Regions from separate parts of the Homo sapiens genome. Here all the other regions are linked to region 1. Evidence: fine-mapped expression QTL. A gene starts in region 1. Each other region holds a variant in brackets. All regions are shown on one strand. Distances are from middle to middle. Region 1 holds the start of WDSUB1 (WD repeat, sterile alpha motif and U-box domain containing 1). Region 2 overlaps WDSUB1 (WD repeat, sterile alpha motif and U-box domain containing 1). Region 3 overlaps BAZ2B (bromodomain adjacent to zinc finger domain 2B).

Region 1 (8,464 bases):
CTAAAGAAGTATCGTGATTTTCTTTAGGCAAAAATCAGTCAACTAGTTTGAAAGTCATTAGTGAAAATATGGAGAAATATTAATTCCAGATAATCAGGTTAAAATGGAGACCTAGCATTATTTGGCCAATTAATTGACAGAATGTTACAAGATGCCAAAGACTGGTAGCATCAAATACTGTATTCCAGACTATAATAGGCAGTAAACTGGAAACATAATCTGTAATTCTGTAAATTGAATTATTGTTGAATGAATTAATTTTTCCGTATCTGTAATATTTTTACCTTATGTAATAAAAACCATAAATCTGGAAACAAAAGTATTTTTTTCAGAAATGCATTAACATCTTGAATTCTCTTGAAGAACATTAATAATAGTATCTGAAAATAAAGAATTTGAGAAAATGAGACAATAAGAAAATGAAAAAATGTAAACTGCAATTTAAAATTTCATAAACAAAAGCTGGGCACGGAGTGGCTCATGCCTGTAATCCCAGCACTTTGGTGGGGGGGCCAAGGGGGGAGGATTGCTTGGGCCCAGGAGTTGAGACCAGCCTCAGCAACATAGTGAGACCCTGTCTCTATACAAATAAAAATCAAAAAATGAGCTGGGGTTTGTGTTGCACGCCTGTAGTCTCAGCTACTCAGGAGGCTGAAGTGGGAGGATCGCTTGAGCCCAGGAATTGGAAAACAAAACAAAAACAAAACCAACAAAACAAAATAAAAATTTCATAAGCAAAAAATATTTCTTGTACCATAAAGGCAGAAAAAGGCACAGTGAGAATTGCAAAAAAATTTTTTAGTGTGTACCAAATACCAAGTTTCATACATGTCATTACATTTCTTTCTGGTATTCTTACTTCCAGCCATATGCATATTTTCTGCTGTCAGGCAGTTCTCACTGTGCCCAATATACACCATCTCATCCCAACCCTCTGTTTTGTTGTTAGGCAGCCCCTGGATCTTTCTTTTTTCCTGTATGGAATTCCAGTTGTTTCTAAAGAACTCTGCTAATTCTTACTACTGGGTTGGCACACAGGGACTCTGAATGGTTTAATGAAAAGATGGCCAGTTCGAAGGTGTAAATTTTACATAGTGGCAAAGGATAAAGCAAATTAAGAGAACATTTTATGATGCAGAAGTTATCTTGCTCCCAGGCAGAGTTGCAGCTTTCCAGCTCCCCAGAGTTCTCTACAAGGAGGTGGCACTGTGGCTCATACCAGATGTGGAGAGTTGATGGTTGCATCAGATATGAGATAATCTCTGGGCAATCTGCCAGGATGTTTTTAAAAACGTCTTCTGCAGTGTAATATACACATAGAAAAAGGCAAATTTCATGCGTTCAGCTTGATATAATTTCATAAACTGAACACCTCAAGGGAGTTTTTATACCTTGAGCTCTACCTTGTCCAACTGTTCTGGAAACTCTGACATTGGGTTTGCCTGCAAAGGAAAACAACCTCAATACATGCCTGAGTATTTCCTGTGAAACTGGGTGTTTCCAAAGCTCACCCCTCAGCCGGCCTAGACTTCAGGTCTAGTTAGCACACATTCTTATGCCCACCTTTTCCAACTTCACAGGCGCCTCTCATCTCTCCGTTAAGCTCTTGTTTACTCAGGACCACATATTTTAGTAATTGGTGGCTCACTCATTGCTTCACATCTATTCGGTTCCCGTTGCCACTGTATTTTGACAACATGTATTGCTTACTATTTAATTGAAAAGTTGGGGAGGGATAGCATTAGGAGATATACCTAATGCTAAATGACGAGTTAATGGGTGCAGCACACCAACATGGCACATGTATACATATGTAACAAGCCTGCACGTTGTGCACATGTACCCTAAAACTTAAAGTATAATAATAATAAAATTAAAAAAAAAAAAAAGAAAAGTTGGTTTTTCTGGTTGGCCGCGGTGGCTCACCCCTGTAATCCCAGCACTTTGGGAGGCAGAGGCGGGCAGATCATGAGGTCAGGAATTCGAGACCATCCTGGCTAACATGGTGAAACCCCATCTCTATCAAAAATAAAAAAATTAGCCGGGCATGGTGGCTGGCACCTGCAGTCCCAGCTACTCGGGAGGCTGAGACAGGGCAATGGCGTGAACCCAGGGGTGGAGCTTGCAGTGAGCCGAGATCGCACCACTGCACTCCAGCCTGGGCGACAGAGCTTGCTCCGTCTCAAAAAAAAAAGAAAAGAAAAGGTGGTTTTTCTTTAAATACATCACTTAAAATTGTTTTCTATATTCTTCAAGTAGCATTATTTTAAGGAGCAGAACAAGAAATTAATGACAAAATGGGATTTTTATCCTTAAATAAGATTTTCTTTTTTTTGAAGACACAGTCTCACTCTGTTGCCAAGGTTGGAGTGCAGTGGCTCGATCTCGGCTCACTGCAACCTCTGCCTCCCGGGTTCAAGAAATTCTCCTGCCTCAGCCTCCTCAGTAGTGGGTATTATAGGTGTGCACCACCACGCCTGGCTAATTTTTGTATTTTTAGTAGAGACGGGGTTTCACCACGTTGGCCAGGCTGGTCTTGAACTCCTGACCTCAAATGATCTGCCCACCTTGGCCTCCCAAAGTGCTGTGATTACAGGTGTGAGCCACCGCACCCAGCCTTAAATAAGATTTTCACAGCTACACAATTAGGGTGAGGAATGCATAAAACATTCAAATCTTTAATATTCCAAATCAAAGGTCTAACTACTTTGGGAGATGTTAACTAAAATATCTTGCCAATATACTATAGAAACAGAATTTATAAAGATACATTTATAAGAATTTATAGATTTGTAGAGTGAACTGGTACAGGACAGAGTGTTAAAGTAGTTAGATCTCTGGAGACCAGCCTCAATGAGGCTTCTATCTTTGAAACTGCCTGTCTCTGTAGGACAGGCAAAGCTGACTATACTGGACATGAGGTCATGGTGCTAAACTACTGGCAGGTGTAGTCACGGGCTTCTTTTATATATTTTACTTAAAGAATATTATAACCAATTTGGCTTATCAAATTAGTGTAGATAGAGGCTGAGGCGGGTGGATAACTTGAGGTCAGGAGTTCGAGACCAGCCTGGCCAACATGGTGAAACCCTGTTTCTACTAAAAATACATAAAGTCAGCCGGGCGCGGTGGCGGGCGCCTGTAATCCCAGCTACTTGGGAGTCTGAGGCACGAGAATCACTTGAACCTGGGAGGTAGAGGTTGCAATGAGCCAAGATCCTGCCACTGCATTCCAGCCTGGGCGACAGAGCAAGACTCCATCTCACAAACAAACAAAAAAACCCACACACAAATTAGTGTAGATAAAAAAGGTATCCCTCAAGTTTGACAAGAAAGTGGAGAGACAAACACAACTACATATTGCTGAGAGTGTAAACTGTACAACCTCTCTGAAGAGCAGTATGGTAATACTTATTAAAACTGTCTACACCTTTATGCCCAGTGATTCCATTTCCTTTTTTTTCTTTTGTGAGACAAAGTCTCACTCTATCCCCCAGACTGGAAGTGGAATGGGGAGATCTCTGCCCACTGCAACCTCAGCCTCCTGGGTTCAAGAGATTCTCCTGTCTCAGCCTCCTGAGTAGCTGGGATTACAGGTGCGTGCCACCATGCCTGGCTAATTTTTTTCTATTTTTAGTAGAGATGGGGTTTCACCACGTTGGCCAGGCTGGTCTTGAACTCCTGACCTCAGGTGATCCACCCAGCTTGGCCTCCCAAAGTGCTGGGATTACAGGCGTGAGCCACCGCACCTGGCCTCCATTTCAATTTTTATCCTAAGTACATATTCATAAATATGGAAAAAGATTTATGTACATAACGTGGTAATATATTGAGGCTAAAAGAAAAAGATTTAGGTACAAAGATATTTAATCCAGCATTATCTACACTAAGATCAAAATTGTTGAAACCATCCAGCAACAGGGAAAATGTTAAATAATTTATGGTATGTTTATATGTAGACCATTATGTAGAAAAAAAAGCTAATGAAATTTTAGACATGGGAACAGCTCATGACACAAGTTTGTTTAAAAAGGCAGTTTCCAGGACTTTTTGTAAAATTAGTTTTTCTGAAAGACTGAGAGAAAATGTTATCTCTGAGTGGGTGATCTCTGAGGGGTGTAATTATTGACTATTTATTTTCCTGTTATATATTCTGTGTTTCCTACAGAGAGCTCTATTATTTATACAATCAAAAACTTGTTTTTAGAAAAATACTGTTTTGGCAATACTTTGGAATGGAATTTGGTGTTCAAAGTCTCAATCATGATGCACTCCGCTAATTTTAAAAAATTAACAAGAACTTCACAAAATCCTAATTTTTAATCTTCCCTTTCCCCTTAATCTTTTTCATTGCAAATAGTTTCCCACGGTCTCAATTTCATCTTTAAATGTGAGCATTTTAGGTCATTACTCTTCAAATGTAACTTCGGTCTCCACAGGCTGATATATTTTTAATGTTTCCTCATGGATTAAAAATAAAAGCTCTCTGTATCTTTGATTTTCATCTGAACATAGTCCCACACTATGTTGTGCATTTAGTTAACAAGTGGTAATTTGCTCAGGAACTTTTTTTTTTCTGGATAATTTTTATCTCAAAAAGCACTGGCAGGGCCACTTTGTAGTCAATGACACGTGGAAACCAGTCTACCGTGAGCCAGTGGGACGCACTGGGAAAGGCTGAAGAAAAGGCGCCCGGGGTTCCAGTGAGCTCAGGATACCCACCCAACGGCAGGGCTGGGGCCCGGGGCAGGCAGCCTGCCCGGGAGAGACCCCTAGGGGAACCCGAATGAGGAGGCGAGGGCAGAAGACGCCAAGTCACGGACCGCCCAGGGTGGCCGAAATAGAGAAGGCCAATCTGGGAGACCGGCCTCGGAGTACACAGTGCAGGGTGGAGAACTGGAGAAAGAGGTAAAAACTTTCAGCAGGGATGGCCGAACATTCCATGCAACGCCCCTTTAAAACGACGTTTCAGGCGATCACTAGGCCTTGCGACCGCAGCTTTAGCAAAAACAGAAAGATTTGCGACGGAAGTCCCTTTCCAAGCCTGAAATCGCCTTGACCCTAGGAGCCAGAAGCTGGGGAGGAACTCGCAGTCCGGGCGGAAGAGCGCGCATGCGCCGCCTCAGGGGCCGGTCCCGGGGGCGGGGCCTGTTCCCTCCGCCCTGGGTCTCCACAGGCTTTCGCGGGGCGGGGCCTACTCCCTCCGCTCTGGGTCACAGCGGGCGTTCGGGGGGCGGGGCCTGTTCCCTCCGCTCTGGGTCCCCGCGGGCGTTCGGGGGCGGGGCCTGTTCCCTCTGCTCTGGGTCTCCGCCGGCGCCCGCCCCGCCAGCCTCACCTGCGCGGCACGTGACCCGCACCGCCCGTGGGCACCTTGAAGGCGGATCCCGCGCGCCCCCGCTCCTGCAGGTGAGAGCGGCCGCGCCCACGGGCCGGCTCAGCGGCGGTGGCGGCAGGTGGGGAAGCGCGGCTGGGCCTGCTCGCGCGGGGCGTCTGAGCCCTCCATTTCCCGGTTCTAACCGCGCAGCAGGGCCCAACCGGGACCTTGAGTGCGGCGAGGCGTGGTTCGTGCACCCTTGGCCCGGGGCTAGGGCGGGCGTGTCGGCGTCGGGTGGAAGGAAGCCCCTTGCGGGTGAGCTCCCTGCCTCCCAGGCCTCCCTCTTGCCTGGGGTCGCTCAGTCCACAGAGGCCCGGCCGCTCATAGAGGGGGGCACATTCCTGGTCTTTCGTGCATGGGGGGTGTAAGTGGCGGACTTTATTTTGGGAGCGCTGGACACCTTTCGGGTTTGCTTTGAATGAGATGGGATTCATGTGTTTACGCTGGCCAACTGACCTGGTGTGCCCGGGAATTTACTGTTCGCGTGACAGCCGAGGCCCGAGGGAACGCCCACACCGCCCCCCCTACCCCAAGGCAGGTCCTGGGTAGGCCTGAGAGCTTTTTCAAAACAAACTGTTCAGCTGACGGTGGCCTCGGTACTTCCCACTGAATGCCCTGGAACTTGCAAAGGGAGCTGAGTGCGGCAGAGGGCTGGGAGCCGGAGTTTGTTTGGAAAATCACCTGTGCGCACTTGCACAGCTGGGATTTGCGAGCTCTCCAGAAAGCACCACCTGGTCTTGATTGTTTTCAAGACAGCAGTACAGGGATAGTCTACCAGAAATTTTCGTGTTTGGTTTTTAGGCTTTATTGGAGTTTATGTTCGAAGAAAAGAAGCTGAACTTATCCTAAAAGGATAAGATGAAGATAGGGAAAGGCATGCTCCTTATGCCTTAATATTTGTTTGATTGATTGATGGGGTCCTGCTCTGTTGCCCAGGCTAGAGTGCAGTGGTGCAATCACAGCTCACCGCCGGCGTCACCTCCGGGGCTCAAGTGATGCTCCCGCCTCAGCTTCTCGAGTAGCTGGGACTACAGGTGCTCGCCACCACACCCAGCTAATTATTTTTATTTTTAGAGAGATGGGGTCTTGCCTTGTTGCCCAGACTGGTCTTAAACTCTTGGGCTCAAGTGTTCCACCCATCTCGGCCTCCCAAAATGCTGGGACTACAGGTGTGCACCATCGCGCCCAGACTTTTTTTTTCTTTGGTAGAGGTGTTTCCGTAAATAAGACTAGGACAAAGGATTATCAATTTTACAAGTCAAGGTTATACCTGCCCCTTTCAGAGCTGATTCTGCCTCACTTGACACCAGTTTTCCACCGTCAGTTATGTTTCTGTGTGTGTATATATATTTAGTCTTGGTAGATTTTCTAATTTCATATTACATATGGATTATTTAAAGGCTGGAACTCAGTTGGGCTCGAACAAAATAAATATTCAACTTATATTTATTTAAGTACATTAGGTGCCTGACAGTTTTACATGGTGTGGATACAGAAATGAGCAAGATGGCAAAGTACCTACTCCTTTGGGATTTACATCCTAGTCGGAGGAGACAATTTAACAAATATCCGATGCTGGTGGTAATTGCTGAGAATATAGAGTGATGTGCTAGCCTAGGGAGTGGCTACTTTAAATAGGGAAACCGTCTCTGAGGAGAGACACTGAAATTGAGATCTAAATGACAAATAGGATCCCAAGAGCAGAGGCAAGAACATTTCAGCTTGAGAAAACCGCTTTATGGAGACGGAAGACTGTTAGGCCAAGGAGGCTGGAAAGAAGAGAGGGACAGTGGCCAGAGTTGAGATCTGAGAAGTGGGCAGGCGGGAATTATATAGGATTTTGATTACATAAGACTGTATAGGATTTTGTTTGCCATGATGAGTTTGATTTTATTCTAAATTTGTAAATTTGTTCTTGAGCGTGGTCTGGCTAAGTTCATTTTTTGACACTTTCTTAGGTTTTCTTTTCTTGGTTTCCTTGATTCATTCAGAGGTGGTTCCTCACCTCAAGTCTTTTGTATAATTTTACTATTTATCAGACAGGATGACAAACCATGATAGGACAGCTTTCAACATGGTCACTTATTAATAAATTTTCAATGAGACTTTTGTTGTTTTTTTTTAAGAGCAAATCCTACAGTTTGATTTTAAAGGCGGAGCAGATAGCCTTGGCTCCATCCTGTGAAGGGAACAGCTAAGATAGTTTATTAGAATAGAAAATACTTTTTGAGTTGAGATGAGCAGATCTGGAGTGAGGTATTTTTGAGAACTCCTTATGAGAAAGGCTTCAAAGGTGAAATAAACACCTTAGGTTTTGAAAGCTCAACATCAAATCAGTTTGAAGTTATTTGACAGTTTGAAGGTTCTTTTTGAGGAGTTGTGGAAATTTATTGGTATGACAACGGTGGTTGTGAGAATCAGAGGTTATAGTCTTATAGATTTTTTTTTCTCCAAATTGTTCTTATCCCAGGTAACAGGTTGTCCTTTAAAACAGAGCTCCCTTGGCCGGGTACGGTGGCTCACGCTGGTTATCCCAGCACTTTGGGAGGCTGAGGTGGGCGGATCACTTGAGGCCAGGAGTTCAAGACCTGGCCAACATGGGGAAACCCGGTCTCTACTAAAAATACAAAAAATTAGCCGGGCGTGGTGGGACATGCCTGTAATCCCAGCTACTTGGGAGGCTGAGGTGGGAGAATCACTTGAACCCGCGAGGCGGGAGTTGCAGTGACCTGAGAACATGCCACTGCACTCAAGCTTGGATGACAGAGGGAGATCCTGTCTCAACAAAACAAAACAAAAACAAAACATAGATCCCCAACCCCCAGGGCCGAGGACTGGTACCCATCATGGCCTGTTAGGAACTGGGCTGCACAGCAGGAGGTGAGGGCATGAGTGAGCTCCACCTCTTGTCAGATCAGCTGCAGTGTTAGATTTTTTTTCTTTTTTTTTTTTTGAAGGCGGAGCAGATAGCCTTGGCTCCATCCTGTGAAGGGAACAGCTAAGATAGTTTATTAGAATAGAAAATACTCTATTTTCTAGAACTCTAGAGATGGAGTTTCGCTCTGTCACCCAAGCTGGAGTGCAGTGGCA
Region 2 (8,464 bases), 33 kb after region 1:
AAAGACCAAGTTGTGGCCGGGTGCAGTGGCTCACACCTGTAATCCCAGCATGTCAGAAGGCTGAAGCAGGCAGATGGCTTGAGTCCAGGAGTTTAAGACCAGCCTGGCCAACATGGTGAAACCTCATCTCTACCAAAAATACAAAAACTTAGCTGACCGTGGTGGCGCGTCCCTGTAGTCCCAGCTACTTGGGAGTCTGAGGCAAGAGGATGGCTTGAACCCCGGAGGTGGAGGTTGCAGTGAGCCGAGATTGTGCCACTGCACTCCAGCCTGGGCAACAGAGTGAGACCCTGTCTCAAAAATAAAGTAGTTGAAAAAAATATTGTCCAAAAGAAGAAAATGTTGAGTGGAGCCTCCTAATGCTGTAGCTATGCCAGCAAATAAATGGAGATATAAGTAATCAAAGGGTAGCGAGTTAAGCAAGTGATGTAAGCTAGTCTTCCACACAGAAGTTCGAGTCACTGAGTGTTCTGGCAGGAAATGGGAAAGAATACTCAAGCTAGGTGAGGTAAATCTTTAATATTTCTCATGAACGTTTCATGAGATTTTACATTCTCAAAAACAATTATAACACTAAATTGTCTCTGTAAAATATGTATGAGTCCCACTTAAATACACCTAAAATGTTAGATGGACACCTTAGTGTACTCTAAGGGACTAATTTATTTATTTGTTTTTTTGAGACAGACTCTTGCTCCTTTGCCCAGGCCGTAGTGCAGTGGTGCGATCTTGGCTCACTGCAACCTCTGCCTCCCGGGTTCAAGCAATTCTCCTGCCTTAGCCTCCCAAGTAGCTGGGACTACAGGCACGTGCCACCATGCCAGCTAATATTTTATATTTTTAATAGGGATGGGGTTTCACCGTGTTGGCCAGGCTGGTCTCAAACTCCTGAGCTCAAGTGATCCACCTGCCTCGGCCTCCCGACATGCTGGGATTATAGGTGTGAGCCACTGCACCCGGCCAAGGGACTAATTTCTACTCACTGGTCCTGCAATGTATACAAGTCAAATGCCATAGTCAAAAATATGAATTATTTCAGGTAATAGATGTTTAGGTTACTATTAGTAGGTTCAAACAGATGAGCAAATGCCAAGGGTCTACTGTACTAAAAATTTCTAAGGAGGTGGCTAGCAGACAATAATGCCGATAATTGACAAAAAGTGAAGTAAGTACCTGAGAATGCTGTTACAGATGCTGTTTCTGCTATTCATTGAGTAAAGTTTCAACTTATGTTAGTTACTAATAAATATTAATATATCCACTTAGTATACAACCCATTTATGTCAAATGAGTCTTCATCAGTAACTTTACTCTTACTTGAGTAAATTTAAAGCTGTTTTTATTGTTTTTCAGAATACTGAGAATATACTTCACACATTGACTCAGCACACCAGGTCTGAACTTAACCTCACCTTGTATTAATATAATTTAAAAATTAGTCAGAAGATACATAATAGTTGTTTTTATTAACTAGGTATGTCACAACTTGTGCTTTTGCACCTAATACCCTTTTACTTGCTACTGGTTCAATGGACAAAACAGTGAACATCTGGCAATTTGACCTGGAAACACTTTGCCAAGGTTAGTAAGGACATCATTTTTCACTCATTTCAACCCCACTCACCATTAGGGTCAGAAAGTTAGTAAATCGGGCTGGGCACCGCGGCTCACACCTGTAATCCCAGCACTTTGGGAGGCCAAGGTGGGTGTATCACTTGAGGTCAGAAGTTCGAGACCAGCCTGGCCAACATGGTGAAACCCTGTCTCTACTAAAAATACAAAAAAGTAGCTCAGCATGATGGTGCATGCTTATAATCCCCGCTACTCGGGAGGCTGAGGCAGGAGAATCGCTTGAACCTGGGAGGCGGAGGTTACAGTGACCTGAGATCGTGCCATTGCACTCCAGCCTGGGCGACAAGAGTGAAACTCCATCTCAAAAAAAAAAAAAAAAGTTAGTAAATCATTTGACAGGTTATTCACATTGCTTTTATCAATATAAAGTATACATCCAAATTTAATGTCATTTAAAAATAGTTTGGCCTGGCATGGTGGCTCACACTTATAATCCCAGCACTTTGGGAGGCCGAGGTGGATGGATTGCGTGAGCCCAGGAGTCTGAGATTAGCTTGGGCAACATGGTGAAACCCCATCTCTACAAAAAAGACAAAAATTAGCCACACATGGGGGTGTGCACTTGTGGCCCCAGCTACTTGGGATGCTGAGGTGGGAAGGATCACCTGAGCCCAGGAGGTCATGAGGCTGCAGTGAGCTGAGAACACGCCACTGTACTTCAGCCTGGGCAAGGGAGTGAGAACTCATCTCTAAAATAATAATAATAATTTTACAGAAGCCAGTGTTGAAGTGGCTGGGCTGTGTTAAAGCTGTTGGTAAATGCTTTCAGTGCACATTCATGTGTCCCACTCCTCCCATGGTTTCTAAGTTATTTGTTTATACTCCATACTAATTTTTCAGGTAAATATAACCTCAGGACAAAATCGAAATTATCGTTGTATTTTGTTGGTTTTATTTTGGCATCAAGCGACATTGGCACATAATTTAGGAGTTTTATTTTTATCACTGTCAGAATTATCTAAATAGTGGTGCTGATATGCAGATGATGGAGCAAATAGAATACCTTTGCTGGTATGAATTTTATATAATAAAAAATTGTTTTCCTGATGTGAAAAAGAAAATGATCCAAAAGCAAGTTAAAGTGGTAAAACAATTTTTTTTTTTTTTTTGAGACTGGTCTCCCTATGTTACTTAGGCCGGTCTTGAACTCCTGACTTCAAGTGATCCTCCTGCCTCAGCCACTTGAGAAGCTAGGATTATAGGCATGAGCCACTGTACCTAGCTATAAAACACAGATTTAAGGAAATTTCATTTACTTTTAATTCAAAGTGAGAATGTTTATAAAGGAAATACTTTTTTGTTATCTCACTTACTTGTTTGTTTATTTTAAGCAAGGCGCACAGAACATCAGCTGAAGCAATTTACCGAAGATTGGTCAGAGGAGGATGTCTCAACATGGCTTTGTGCACAAGATTTAAAAGATCTTGTTGGTATTTTCAAGATGAATAACATTGATGGAAAAGAACTGTTGAATCTTACAAAAGAAAGTCTGGCTGATGATTTGAAAATTGGTAAGCTTAGTGAAAGATAGGCAATCTTCAAAACAACTTTTACCAAATTACTCTGCAGTTGGATTTTGTTGCATTAATGGTTTCTTCTTAATGTTCTGGCACTACACTAATGACCCATCTTCTTGATTATGGCCATCCTAGCAGCTGTGAAGTGGAATTTCATTATGGTTTTGATTTTCATTTACCTAATGACATGCATCTTTCATGTGCTTATTTGCCATTTATATATCTTCTTTGGAGAAATGTCTGATCAGATCCATTGCCCATTTTTAAACTGGGTTGTCTTTTTATTGTTGACTTTGTAAGAGTTGTTTATGTATTCTGGGTACTAGATCTTTACCAAAAACAAGTTTTGATATCATGCTCTAATAAACATAATTGCCAGACACTATTACTAATATGCTATAGTAAAATTTTAGTTAACCAGAAAGCTCAGGAAATAAGATATTCATGTTGAGATTTATTACTAATGAAGAGTGAAATAACTAAAAATCTTTGTTATAGAAAACCATTTTAAAGTATAGTATTATAAGTATTTTACTTTCCTTACATAGTAAACATAGTACGTGAGCCTATTTAAATCTCTTGGAAGCCTATGGCCTTTTAAGGAGTTAACAGAATGATTTTGTGAAAACACATAAGTGGTTTTGTACTATACTCAGGCTATACTTGAGTACAGTCACTTTTCTTTATTTAATTTAATTTAATTTATTTTATTTATTTATTTTTGAGATGGAGTCTCGCTCTGTCACCCAGGCCGGTGTGCAGTGGCGCGATCTCGGTTCACTGCAAGCTCCGCCTCCCAGGTTCACACCATTCTTCTGCCTCAGCCTCCCGAGTAGCTGGGACTACAGGCGCCTGCCACCATGCCTGGCTAATTTTTTATATTTTTAGTAAAGACAGGGTTTCACCATGTTAGCCAGGATGGTCTTGATCTCCTGACCTTGTGATCCGCCTGCCTCAGCCTCCCAAAGTGCTGGGATTACAGACCTGAGCCACCGTGCCTGGCCAAGTACAGTCACTTTTCTATCTCTTTTTGTGTGGGGGTGGCAGGGTGGGGGAAGAGATAGGAGGGTCTCACTCTGTTGCCCAGGCTGGAGTGCAGTGGTGCGATCACAGCTCACTACAGCCTCGACCTCCCAGGCTCAAGTGGTCTTCCTGTCTCAGCCTCCCAAGTAATTGGGACCACATGCACATGCTACCACGCCCAGCTTATTTTTACAAATTTTTGTAGAGATGAGGTCTCTCTATTGCCCAGGCTGGTCTTAAACTGCTGGGGTCAAGCAGTCCTCCAGCCTTGGCCTCCCAAAGTGTTGGGATTATGGGCATGAGCCACTGCACCCAGCATCTCTCTGTAATAAAACATTTCCTTTCAACTTCCTCTTTCTTCTGAGAGTAGGTAATAGAGTAGGGGCTTTGTTTTTAAAAAAAACTCACAAATTTAGCATCTTAATTTCTTGTTAATCTCTCACAATTAATCTTAAGGGTACCTTATCAAGTAGAATTACTTCACAATATGAAATAATTTCAGATTCAACAAAGGATGTTTGAAAACATAAGAAAAGCATATAGAAACAATAGAAATACAATTCTATTTTTATAACTAGGTAAATAAGGCATTCTAGTTTTTTGTTTGAGACA[G/C]GGTCTCCCTCTGTTGCCCAGGCTGGAGTCCTCTGGCATGGTCATGCCTCACTGCAGCTTCAACCTCCTAGGCTCAAGTGATCCTCCTACCTCGGCCTCGTGAGTAGCTGGAACCACAGGCATGTGCCACCATGCCTGGCTAATTTTTAAAATTATTTGTAGAGATGAGGTCTCACTACTTTGCCCAGGCTGGTCTCAAACTCCTGACCTTAAGTGACCCTCCCAGCTCGGCCTCCCAATGTGCTAGGATTACAGGCATGAGCCACTGTGCCTGGCCAAGAATAAGACATTCTTGTAGGATTCAATTAATGATCAATTAATGATTCAATTAGTTTTTGAAGGATGAGTCTCAGGTTTAGCAGTAGTAATCATTTTACTTCAAAGTTCAGTGAAATGGGTTTTGGAAGTGTCAGGCCCAAGCCAAAATTGAAATACAGTTTAAACAAGTTCTGTGATGGTCTAATAGGTGAATTTGAAAAACCATTAAGAATGGAGACAAAAATGTTGCACATTCTCTAGTAAATAAGGACTCTTAGGCTTGTGTTTAAGATATGGAGATCTAGCAAACTCAACAAATTAGAATAAAGTAGTAAAAATTGACTGTAACATTTATTTTTTATGTCATTCTAATGTATTTTAAGGTTTTTGCAACCTTCATTATAAAGGATCAAGTGGCTAACTTTAATCTTCTATAAATGGTATTGTAAGCTACAATGAATTTCTTTTAGTCCTGAATTTTAAGAAAAATAGACCTCAAAATAGTAAATTGCACTAATAGAGAATTAAATTTGGTCTAGAAACAAATATGTTGAGGTGAACCAATGAGTATATATGCTATTGAATTTTGCTTTTTTAATGCATATCTATTTTACCTGCGTTTGCCTTTGTGATATAACTGTTTAAAACAGCTGCCATGTCAATGTGAATAAATCTGAGTTTAACATTCAGCAAATGGAGGAAGTTGATTAATTGTACAGTAAAGTACATTGGAGGGTTTGAGACCAAAGTCGTATATCTATTATGTTTGACATTTAAATTATTTTTAAGGAATTGAGCAGTTTATCAAATCTTTTTTCAATGAGTCTTTTGTAAATACACAATAAATGAAATTTCTGCAGACTTGAGTATGTTTGACTTTGGAGCTTTACCCAAGGATAATAGTCATTTTCTAGGATTGTGTTAATGGAAGCCTAGGGTACAATAGACGTACAGCTTTAGTTAGGAAATAATTCCTTATATCTAGAACTATATTTGGATAAGGAATGTCTGGACAGAGTACAGGTTCAAGAGATCCTTGATGTTGAGAGGGATATGTCTTAAGACATTTGCTATGAATTTGTGACTACTACTATAACATTTAATATCTCATTCAAAAGGCATAAAGTGTGAAAGGTTAAGAGTAGGAAAGTCACTTTTAGATGTGATATTACGCAACGAGTTGAGTCTACTACTAACTAGCCACACAGCTTCCATCTAGCTACTCATTGGCCTCAGTTTATATCTAGGCCTTGGGAATGCGGCAGATTGCTACGTATCTTGGAGTTTGGAATTGCTATAGAAGATAAAATGATAGAAACTTAAAATGACAAATGCTAAGGAACTATTGTATATCATGTTGGTATTTATGAAATTCAGATAATTATCAACCATAGATGCCTAATTGGGAACGAGATTTTTTTCAAAGGGTTCACTCTTCCATTTGCTCTTCTTTCCAAGAAATCATAAAAGCACATAAGACATTTTTATCATTTTCTAATTTAAAATTAAAACTAGAAATTTAAATACATCACCTGTCTTAGTATCCTCGGGTTTTGAAAGTTTCATGTTTCGGTTCTTATTAATTCGTTATGTAGATTTCACTTGTTGCCTATGTAACTGCATTTATTGTTAAGTAATTGAACATTTACAGTTTTTTTGTTGTTGTTTATATGTGATTAAAGTGAAATAGGCTGTTCAAATCTAGTTACTGTGCAATGACCCCCTGTTGAAAGGGCATAACCCTCCCTGGTCAGCTGCTGTCTGAAGTTGGCCCACTCTCCCTTCCAGTGCTTACTTGTTGGACATGCTGGGGTCTCATTTGCTCAGGCCCATCAGATGTCCTGTTGCTTTCTTCTACACAGATGCCAACCACAGGTCTTTATGGCTGTTAATGGCTTGTCCTCACTCACGTATATTGTAGGGTTCATGAAGATATCTTGCTATCTTGTTTTGTTGGAAATGTCCATGCAATTTGAGTTTATCTGGTTGCTGTTTTTTCAGAGAAATTTAAAAACTATACTGCTTCTATCCTGTTCTTCATACCCTCTTAAAAATTCCTCATGTATCTATAGCTGTGTTTTCCATTCTTAATATAGGTTTCGTGTCTTCTCTTGATCATTCTATGTAGAAATTTGATTTTTTAAATTAATTTTTAATTTTTAAAAAGCAGATTTTTAGCTTTCTTCGTAAGAAACCAGCATTTGGTTCTGTTGTTCTCTGTCAGGGTAGGGGAGAGGTGAGTCAGTGACCAGCTTGGTGGTCTGTGCTTGTTCAATTCCAGGCTCTCGTGCTGTCTTGGTAACTGGCCTCCAGCTGGGGCTGCTGTGGCATCGGTACTTACAGGACAAAGTTGGGAGAGTAAAGGGCACACGTAGGAAGGTCTCTGTCTCATTCATGTACCCACATCTCTGCTCTATGCTGTCATTTCCCAGCTCTCACTCCGGAACCCCGTTACCTTCTGTTTCGTCAGAGGTTTTTGGGGTTGAGTTTTTATATCCGTTAGTTTAGTTTTGTATATTTGATGGTTATTAGTGTCTAGATTCCATCAAACTCTCAGTGATGTAGCATTTCCAGAGTTGGGTGATTTTAACTTGTCATCAAGATGTCTTTTCAGGATTATAGTCAGTAATAGCCAGATATTGCCCAATACTGGTACCGAGGGTTTACTAGCCCTTAGCTGGTAAGGGTCCTTTCTTTCTCAGCAATTAAGTGTATAAGACTTATTCTTAACTCCCAATCACAAAAGGAGATGTTTGGTTCCGGTAGAGCTCTGGGGATGTGGTTTAGTAAACGCTTCCCTGAGGGCAAGATGATCTGACTTCATTTCTAAATGACGTTAGGATTGGAGAAGGATAATGCCCAATTTAACCTTCTCTGGGGAATTTTGAATTAGGCCTTCTGTGTTCTCTGTTATAAATACTAGAAGCATTGTAAGTATTAGCACACATGTAGAATATTTTTGACAGGAAAATATACTTTTTAAAGAATATTAGTTGCTCCTATATTTTTTTCTTTTTCTTAATTTTTTTTTGAGACAGAGTCTCACTCTGTTGCCCGGGCTGGAGTGCAGTGGCATGAACATGGCTCACTGTAGCCTCTACCTCTTGGGCTCTGTAGATTCTCCTGCCTCAGCCTCCTGAGGAGCTGGGACTACAGGTATGCACCACCATGCCCAGCTAATTTTTAAAATTTTTTTTGTAGAGAAAGAGTCTTGCTATGTTGCCCAGGCTGGTCTCAAACTCCTGGTCTTAAGCAGTGCTCCCACCTTGGCCTCTCAAGTGCTGAGATTATAGGCATGAGCCACTACACCCAGCCTCCTTTTCTTATTATGTTATATAATTATCTCTTTAAATGAGATGTCTACTGTCTTATTGCAAACATGTTCTGGAAACATTTATGACAGTTTTTGAAGCCATGTCTCT
Region 3 (8,464 bases), 75 kb before region 1:
TGTTTATTGGTGATGATAACTTCAGATAAGTAACAGAGCACTCAGGGGATCTCTGAGCCCCTACAGTGGTTCCACAGGGGTGTGCCTTGTCCAGTTAGAGACTGGACAAGAAACAAGATCACTCAAAGAGAAGGCTCTGCCTTCATACCACTATATATTTCGAGGTTAGTCCAAGTCCTTCATTATTCTAAGAAACAACATATATCTCAAAGGACCTCTGGGCCTAGGAACAACACTAGGGAGTTTGCATTACAAAGGACCAGGATCTACAAACCAAGGACTTTGAGAACAGCAGCTAAAGACCCTACTGTTCCTCTGCACATCAGCTCGGTGGCTAAGCAGGTTTGCTGATGGGTCTTGGGAACAAGAGAAGGAAGAGAGCCCCCATGCCCATTTAGCTAAGACTGAGGGTTTATTCCTTCTCAGTCCACCCCCTGACCCTTGGTGTGGCTCACTAGATATATGCGTCCCCATCTGCAATAGAAAGCAATTAGATTTTAAATGGTGCCTTCAGTGTTTGTTGACAGTGCTGAAAGAGTCATATAGCCAGAGAAATTCTAAAACAAACAATATACCACAGCATTAGGAGATACAGAGCTCCCATGAGCAATCTGGCTGCATATCCAACAAAAAGTCCAAAGCTATGCAATTCTCTAATATTACTCATGTCAAGGAAGCAATACTAATTTCAGTGATATGATCCCAGGCTTTCTCAATGGCAGCGTTTCCCATGATAGCAATTGCTGGTCATATCCTCAGCTTCGTAGGTGACTATTCAAGGCAAGAGCCCTTGTACAAAGTAATGAAAGCTTGTATCCTTGACACCTGCAGATAGGCTCTAATGCTAGCCCTGGAGACCACAGCTGGAAAAGTGACCAGTGTCTTAGATTTTGAGTCACTATTAAAGGTCTCATAGTACTTCCAAAATGTGCAGTGTTATTTACAGGTGGGAGGCAGGGTAAGCATGCCTTTCACATAAGACGACAGGTTCCACTGGATTACAGAGGTTTAATGCTACATTTTATATCCACTTGGCATTTATGTTTTTCTGGGGTTAACACACTGTCGGCATGCTATTAGACTCAACTGCAGGTCTGAAGTGGAAGTATTTGGTTGAGAGTTTTATGCTGCTTTGGGGTTCTCCTAATGTGGGGCATGGATCCACTGGGAGCCGAGATGTAAGAGTAGGTGTTTTCTGCACCTGAGAAGTTGAGTAGAGTTTTACACAGCATGACTAGTAAGGGAAGAGTTAATGGAGGGCCAGGGCAAATGAGAACTCTGGTTAATACCAGGTAGGAGTAATTCCCATGGTGTTATCTGGGAGTAGAATTTCCAGAAGGTCCTCCACAGTTGAGTATGTTAAGCATAACAAATCCCACATTGTGATAGCTTTGCACTGTCATTGTGTGGGATCGCTGCAGAGGATTATTTGGTACAGTCTGTTAATATCTGCAAGAAAGGTGAAGAGAGAGTTATTCATGCTCCAACCACACTTTCACTTTTTTTGGTCAGGCACGTTTATGCCCAAGCACAGTCCATCATTATCTTTAAGGACAACCTATGTGGTCTGTTCTTTCTTTCTGCAACAGTAAGTTCCACATGAAAGCAGGAGTTGCACTTTCTCACCAGAGAAACTCTGTGGATAGAGTATACTATATGGGTATAGAGACTGCAGCAAAATCTCCCACTTGCAGAATAAGCATACAACAGAAATTTAGAATGTTTGGAATAAAGAGAGAATCAAAATTGCCCTTCTGTAGGTGTAGCTAGCAGTGTCATCAGGAAGTCAGGAGAGCATCCAAGTTTGTATCCATCCATTTGTCTGTAATATGAACACACAAACCTCCCAGCCACCTGTTGAAATTATGACAGGTACAACAAAAGGAAATAACTATTGAGGTGTAAAAACTCAGGTCTTGGCATACCAAGTAGATTCTTCGTCTGTTTCTGCTTTTTGACTCCCAGGTGCCAAGGAACTTCACCAAAGTGGAGGGACCTTTATGAGTATAAACAGCAGAGGTCACCCGGACCAGACAATCTTATAGAAGTCATTGTTAAAAGGATGGGTACAGCTGTCTTTCAGAATGCTATTCCAGCATTCTATACTGCCCGTGGTTAAGAACGAGCCTAGAACAGCCACTTAGTACCATGTTGGCAATACCATTCTACATGGTCCCATTGTAGAATGCCAGCAGCTGTGAAAGCACTTTCATTGCTTAATTGTATCATATCTAGAAACCCCAATATATAATAATATACCTAAGTCTTGATAATATGTATGTTATCTGCAAATGCAGGAGACACAGTAACCCCAAAGGTGTATACCATTCATTAGCTAGAGGAGATCAAACACCCAAAAACTAACACATGCCATCAGAGTCTCTGCCTGAGACCAGTCATAGATCACTTGCAGTACTAGTGTCAAACAGAGTTAGGCAAACGGGGTTGTTAAATTGTGAAATGGTGTTGTGCAGTACCCCTGCCTGAGTCTGTTCTTGTATAAGAAATGCAACCTGTTTCACCTCTAGGTGTGCAACACTGTCACACAACGTCTGCCGACCTTGTAAGTATAGTGTCACACAACATCTGCCGACCTTGTAAGTACAGGTGGGTTTTGGCAACATACCTGGCCAACAGTTATAGAAGCTACTAACAGAAGTCACAAAAAATGTCTAACTAAGGGCTAGGCATGGTGGCTTATACCTGTAATCCCAGCACTTTGGGAAGCTGAGGTGGGAGGATTAGTTGAGCCCAGGAGTTCAAGACCAGCCTGGGTAACATGGTGGAACCCCATCTCTACAGAAAAATTAGCCAGGTATACTTCCAGCTACTTAGGAGTTTAAGGTGGCAGAATCAATTAAGCACAGGAGTTCGAGGCTGCAGTGAGCCACGATCGCATCACAGCACTTCAGCCTTGGGGACAGAGCAAGACCCTGTCTCGAAAAGAAAAAAAGTCCAACTGACATGTGGACTTAATTACCCCACCCTGATAAAGAAACAACTAGAATTCACGCAAAAGGTCCAAAAGCCGTTGCAGTGATTGTAATTCTAATCTTTCAGCCATAGGTAACATGGACTCCAAACCCCAGTTGAGGAACTTGTTTACCAGAGCTCTTCTGCAGTCTGGAGCTATGATACTTGGTCCTCCATTTCTAGCAAACCCGTAAATATTGGAGGCTCTTCTCTTTTCCAGCATAATCATCTGGGGTACATGGTTAGGGATCCCTTGGAAGAGAGTAAAGGGGACTGAGCCCACCTGTATTTCTCCTTGAGTTTGAAAGGGCTCAGATTAGGAACAAAGAAGCTTGGCTTCTAGAGTTGACTCAAACTCACAAAGTGGAGCTGATGACTAGGAGCATTCCCACCAGCAATGCCACTTCCAGAGTCAAGATAATGCAGAGTATCTCCCTGTCTCTATGTCCTTTAGATCTTATCAGTTTGTGTGGATGAAGCTCAATAGCCCTCGTCCTCCCCAGGGACCTTCTTCACCTAATCTTCTGGTGACTCCACCTCTCCCAATAATTATTCAAGTCTGTAAACTATTCAGTATCATGTTTCATCTCACATGTCCCTTTTCCACAGTCTCAGTGGGTCTTTTAACTTTTTGAATAGGACTACATTCCCACACTCAAGAATTAGGCCGTCTCTCAATTTCTGTCTTATCATTCCTTCTGTTTATGAGCAATATCACATTTATTGGTGTGAGGGAGATTGCCTGAGTTCAGCCTATCGGTCTACTCCTTCTTTTGTTCCTTCTTTCTTTATATTTTGGGCAGAAACCTGTGCATCTCATGAGACCCTGTCTCTTTCCATTTCCGCCTCTGCTGTGGGGCTTGTATGACCTAAAAAGAACTATTTCATGTCCAACATTGCCTCCCAGATGAAGGAATAAGTCAAAGCAGTTGTCCACTTAGGAGGACCTGCTCTGATTCGGTCATCCAACATTCTCTGCACCAAGAGCATGTTGTCAGGGATTCTCTACTCAAACCCTGGATTTTCTTATAATTACGCTAACACAGCCAGTTGTCTCAGAGTGTGTTAGAGTAACTACACTATCTGTGGATCTAGTCCATTTCACATTCAAGTGGCAGGAAAATCACCCCAATGGTAATACGTATTACCCATGCTACCAAGCATCCAGTTTAGAAGCAGGGTTACAACATCAGCCCCAGTGTTATTA[G/A]TCAACCCAGACTGCTCATTGTTTAACCAGGTCATGTGTTTCCTTTTACTCAGCTTCCCTTAACAACACTGTTGTCTCCTAACCATGCAAATTAGCAGGCCAAGCCTCTACTATCCCTACAGTAGTGGAGCTAATAAGAGTCTTGCTCTTGCTCTGTATAATGCTGGATCTCCTCCTGCTGGTGTTCTCACTCAGGCTCCTGTACACCGTGCCTCACAGTAACTGGCTTCACATACAGCAGGACCAGTTGCCTCATATTACAGATAAACAGTGGGAATTTGCCCCACCTTCCCTTCTAGAGAGACTACCACACCCTTTCTAGTGCACCCTACCAATTTGTACTCCTGAAAATCTCTAAGCTGATAAGGAGAAGAGATAGAACTTAATTTCAAGCCACTGGAAACCCTCTTTACCACTTGAGGGCTTCTGCCATTCTCAGGCGTAGCTACTGAGACCATCCTAACTGCCAAGTGAATTACCACTGTCCCCAGGAGAAATTCTTTGACCCATGGGTTCTCCTCTTTCAGAAAGCCATGACATCGGGACTTTGTTGGGCACCAACTGTAGTACAAGATGGTTACACAAACCACTAACACACATGGTGCTAATAGCAGCAAAGTTTGTTAGTGAGAGTAACCTACAAGCAAAGAAGTAACCGTACACAGGATTCCCAGCCTCCATAATGATTCCACAGGACTTGGACATGCAGCAAGAGCACTCCAAGAGACGAAACACTGTACCCCACACCTTGCCCTGTATGCATTAGTGTGAGAAAGAGTAGAAAGCACTTAATTTCTGAGTAATGATAAACATTATCAAGGGACCTTTGGGTTTAGAAACAGTGCTAGGACATATGCATATCAAGGGTCAAAGTCTACATAGGGAGGACGCTGAGAACAGTGTTGACCTCAGCTGAAGGCCTTCTGACCTGCTGCTGCCTCTCAGGGAAGTGGGAAAGAAGAAAGCCCCTATGGCCTTCCAGCCAAAACCAAGGATTTTTTTTTCCAGTCCAGTTCACTGTTTTTTTTTAATTTGTTTGTTTTTTGTTTTGTTTTCTTTTGTTTCATTGTACTTTAAGTTCTGAGATACAAGTGTAGAACATACAGGTTTGTTACATAGGTATTCACTTGCCATGGTGGTTTGCTGCACCCATCAACCCGTCATCTACATTAGGTATTTCTCCTAATGCTATCCCTCCCCCAGACCCTCACCCCCCCGACAGGCCCCAGTGTGTGTTGTTCCCCTCCCTATGTCCATGTGTTCTCATCGTTCAACGCCCACTTATGAGTGAGAACTTGTGGTGTTTGGTTTTCTGTTCCTGTGTTAGTTTGCTAAGAATGATGGTTTCCAGCTTCATCCATGTCCCTGCAAAGGACATGAACTCATCCTTTTTTATGGCTGCATAGTATTCCATGGTGTATATGTGCCACATTTTCTTTATCTAGTCTATCATTTATGGGCATTTGAGTTGGTTCCAAGTCTTTGCTATTGTGAACAGTGCTGCAATAAACATACATGTGCATGTGTCTTTATAGTAGAATGATATATAATCCTTTGGATATATACCCAGTAATGGGATTGATTGCTGGGTCAAATTGTATTTCTGGTTGTAGATCCTTGAGGAATCACCACACTGTCTTCCACAATGGTTGAACTAATGTACACTACCACCAACAGTGTAAAAGCGTTCCTATTTCTCCACAGCCTCGCCAGCATCTGTTGTTTCCTGACTTTTTAATGATTGCCATTCTAACTGGCATGAGATGGTATCTCATTGTGGTTTTGATTTGCATTTCTCTAATGACCCATGATGATGAGCTTTTTTTCATATGTTTGTTGGCTGCATCAATGTCTTCTTTTGAGAAGTGTCTATTCATATCCTTCACCCACTTTTTGATGGGGTTGTTTATATTTTCTTGTAAATTTGTTTAAGTTCTTTGTAGATTCTGGATACTAGCGCTTTGTCAGATGGCTAGATTGCAAAAATCTTCTCCCATTCTGTAAGCTGCCTGTTCACTCTGATGATAGTTTCTTTTGCTGTGCAGAAGTTCTTTAGTTTAATTAGATCCCATTTGTCAATTTTGGCTTTTGTTGCCATTGCTTTTAGTGTTTTAGTTACCAAGTCCTTGCCCATGCCTATGTCCTGAATGGTATTGCCTAGGTTTTGTTCTAGGGTTTTTATGGTTTTAGGTCTGACGTTTAAGTCTTCAATCCATCTTGAGTTAATTTTCGTATAAGGTGTAAGGAAGGGGTCCAGTTTCAGTTTTCTGCATATGACTAGCCAGTTTTCCCAACACCATTTATTAAACAGGGAATCCTTTCCCCATTGCTTGTTTTTCTCAGGTTTGTCAAAGATCACATGGTTGTAGATGTGTGGCATTATTTCTGAGGCCTCTGTTCTGTTCCACTGTTCTATATATCTGTTTTGGTACCAGTACCATACTGTTTTAGTTACTGTAGCCTTGTAGCATAGTTTGAAGTCAGGTAGTGTGATGCCTCCAGCTTTGTTCTTTCTGCTTAGGGTTGTCTTGGCTATATGGGACCTTTTTTTGGTTCCATATGAAATTTAAAGTAGTTTTTTTCTAATTCTGTGAAGAAAGTGGTAGCTTGATGGGGACAGCATTGAATCTATAAATTACTTTGGGCAATATGGCCATTTTCACAATATTGATTCTTCTATCCATGAGCATGGAATGTTTTTCATTTGTTTGTGTCCTCTCTTATTTCCTTGAGCAGTGGTTTATAGTTCTCCTTGAAGAGGTCCTTCACATCCCTTGTAAGTTGGATTCCTAGGTATTTTATTTTCTTTGTAGCAATTGTGAATGGGAGTTCACTCATGATTTGGCTCTCTGTTTGTCTATTATTGGTGGATAGGAATGCTTGTGATTTTTGCACATTGATTTTGTATCCTGAGACTGCTGAAATAACTTACCAGCTTAAGGAGATTTTGGGCTGAGACGATGGGATTTTCTAAATATACAATCATGTCATCTGCAAACAGAGACAATTTGACTTCCTCTCTTCCTATTTGAATGACCTTTATTTCATTCTTTTACCTGATTGCCCCGGCCAGAACTTCCAATACTATGTTGAATAGGATTGGTAAGAAAGGGCATCCTTGTCTTGTGCCAGTATTCAAAGGGAATGCTTCCAGCTTTTGCCCATTCTGTATGATATTGGCCGTGGGTTTGTCATAAACAGCTCTTATTATTTTGAGATACCTCCCATCAATACCTAGTTTATTGGGAGTTTTTAGCATGAAGGGCTGTTGAATTTTGTCAAAGGCCTTTTCTGCATATATTGAGAGAATCATGTGGGTTTTGTCATTGGTCCTGTTTATGTGATGGATTACATTTATTGATTTCCATGTGTTGAAACAGCCTTGCACCCCAGTGATGAAGCCAACTTGATCAGGGCAGATAAGCTTTTTGATATGCTGCTGGATTCAGTTTGCCAGTATTTTATTGAGAATTTTCGCATCGATGTTCATCAGGGATATTGGCCTGAAATTTTCTTTTTTTGTGTTTCTGCCAGGTTTTGGTATCAGGTATTGACGCTGGCCTTATAAAATGAGTTAGGAAGGAGTCCCTCCTTTTCTATTGTTGGGAATAGTTTCAAAAGGAATGGTAGCAGCTCGCTTTTGTACCTCTGGTAGAATTCGGCTGTGAATCTGTCTGGTCCTGAGCTTTTTTTGGCTGGTAGGCTATTAATTATTGCCTCAGTTTCAGAACTTGTTATTGGTCTATTCAGGGATTGGACTTCTTCCTGATTTAGTCTTGGGAGGGTGTGTGTGTCCCGGAATTTATCCATTTCTTCCAGATTTTTAGTTTATTTGCGTAGAGGTGTTTCTAGTATTCTCTGATGGTAGTTTGTATTTCTGTGGGATCAGTGGTGATATCCACTTTATCATGTTTTATTGTGTCTATTTGATTCTTCTCTCTTTTCTCCTTTATTAGTGTGGCTACCAGTCTGTCTATTTTGTTGATCTTTTCAAAAAACCAGCTCCTGGATTCATTGATTTTTTGAAGGGCCTTTTGTGTCTCTGTCTCCTTTAGTTCTGCTCTGATCTTAGTTATTTCTTGTCTTCTGCTAGCTTTTGAATGTGTTTGCTCTTGCCTCTCAGTTCTTTTAATTGTGATGTTAGGGTGTCGATTTTAGATATTTCCTGCTTTCTGTTGCAGGCATTTAGTGCTATAAATTTCTCTCTAAATCTCTGGCTGTGTCCCAGAGATTCTGGTACGTTGTGTCTTTGTTCTCATTGGTTTCAAAGAACTTATTTATTTC

Evidence for each region. PIP is the estimated chance that this variant, and not a neighbour inherited with it, causes the effect.
Region 2: its variant is fine-mapped to the expression of WDSUB1 in whole blood (TOPMed, PIP above 0.99). The same link has a PIP of 0.9 or more in blood mononuclear cells, monocytes, monocytes after LPS, nasal epithelium, nucleus accumbens and sun-exposed skin.
Region 3: its variant is fine-mapped to the expression of WDSUB1 in whole blood (TOPMed, PIP above 0.99).

What each region holds. Positions count from the first base shown.
Region 1 is chr2:159,283,525-159,291,988 of GRCh38, reverse strand. It overlaps WDSUB1 (WD repeat, sterile alpha motif and U-box domain containing 1), which reads left to right and starts at 5,286. Exons shown (of 11, transcript NM_001128212.3): 1 at 5,286-5,406. RefSeq lists silencers at 5,157-5,326, 5,013-5,452.
Region 2 is chr2:159,250,875-159,259,338 of GRCh38, reverse strand. WDSUB1 (WD repeat, sterile alpha motif and U-box domain containing 1) reads left to right here. Exons shown (of 11, transcript NM_001128212.3): 7 at 1,354-1,394; 8 at 1,475-1,581; 9 at 2,964-3,143. Among named protein-coding and RNA genes, the nearest start is that of WDSUB1, 32 kb to the left of the region's middle. RefSeq lists a silencer at 2,073-2,241. The variant G/C (reference allele first, on the strand shown) is at 4,785.
Region 3 is chr2:159,358,887-159,367,350 of GRCh38, reverse strand. All of the region lies in intron 27 of BAZ2B (bromodomain adjacent to zinc finger domain 2B), which reads left to right. Among named protein-coding and RNA genes, the nearest start is that of WDSUB1, 76 kb to the right of the region's middle. The variant G/A (reference allele first, on the strand shown) is at 4,181.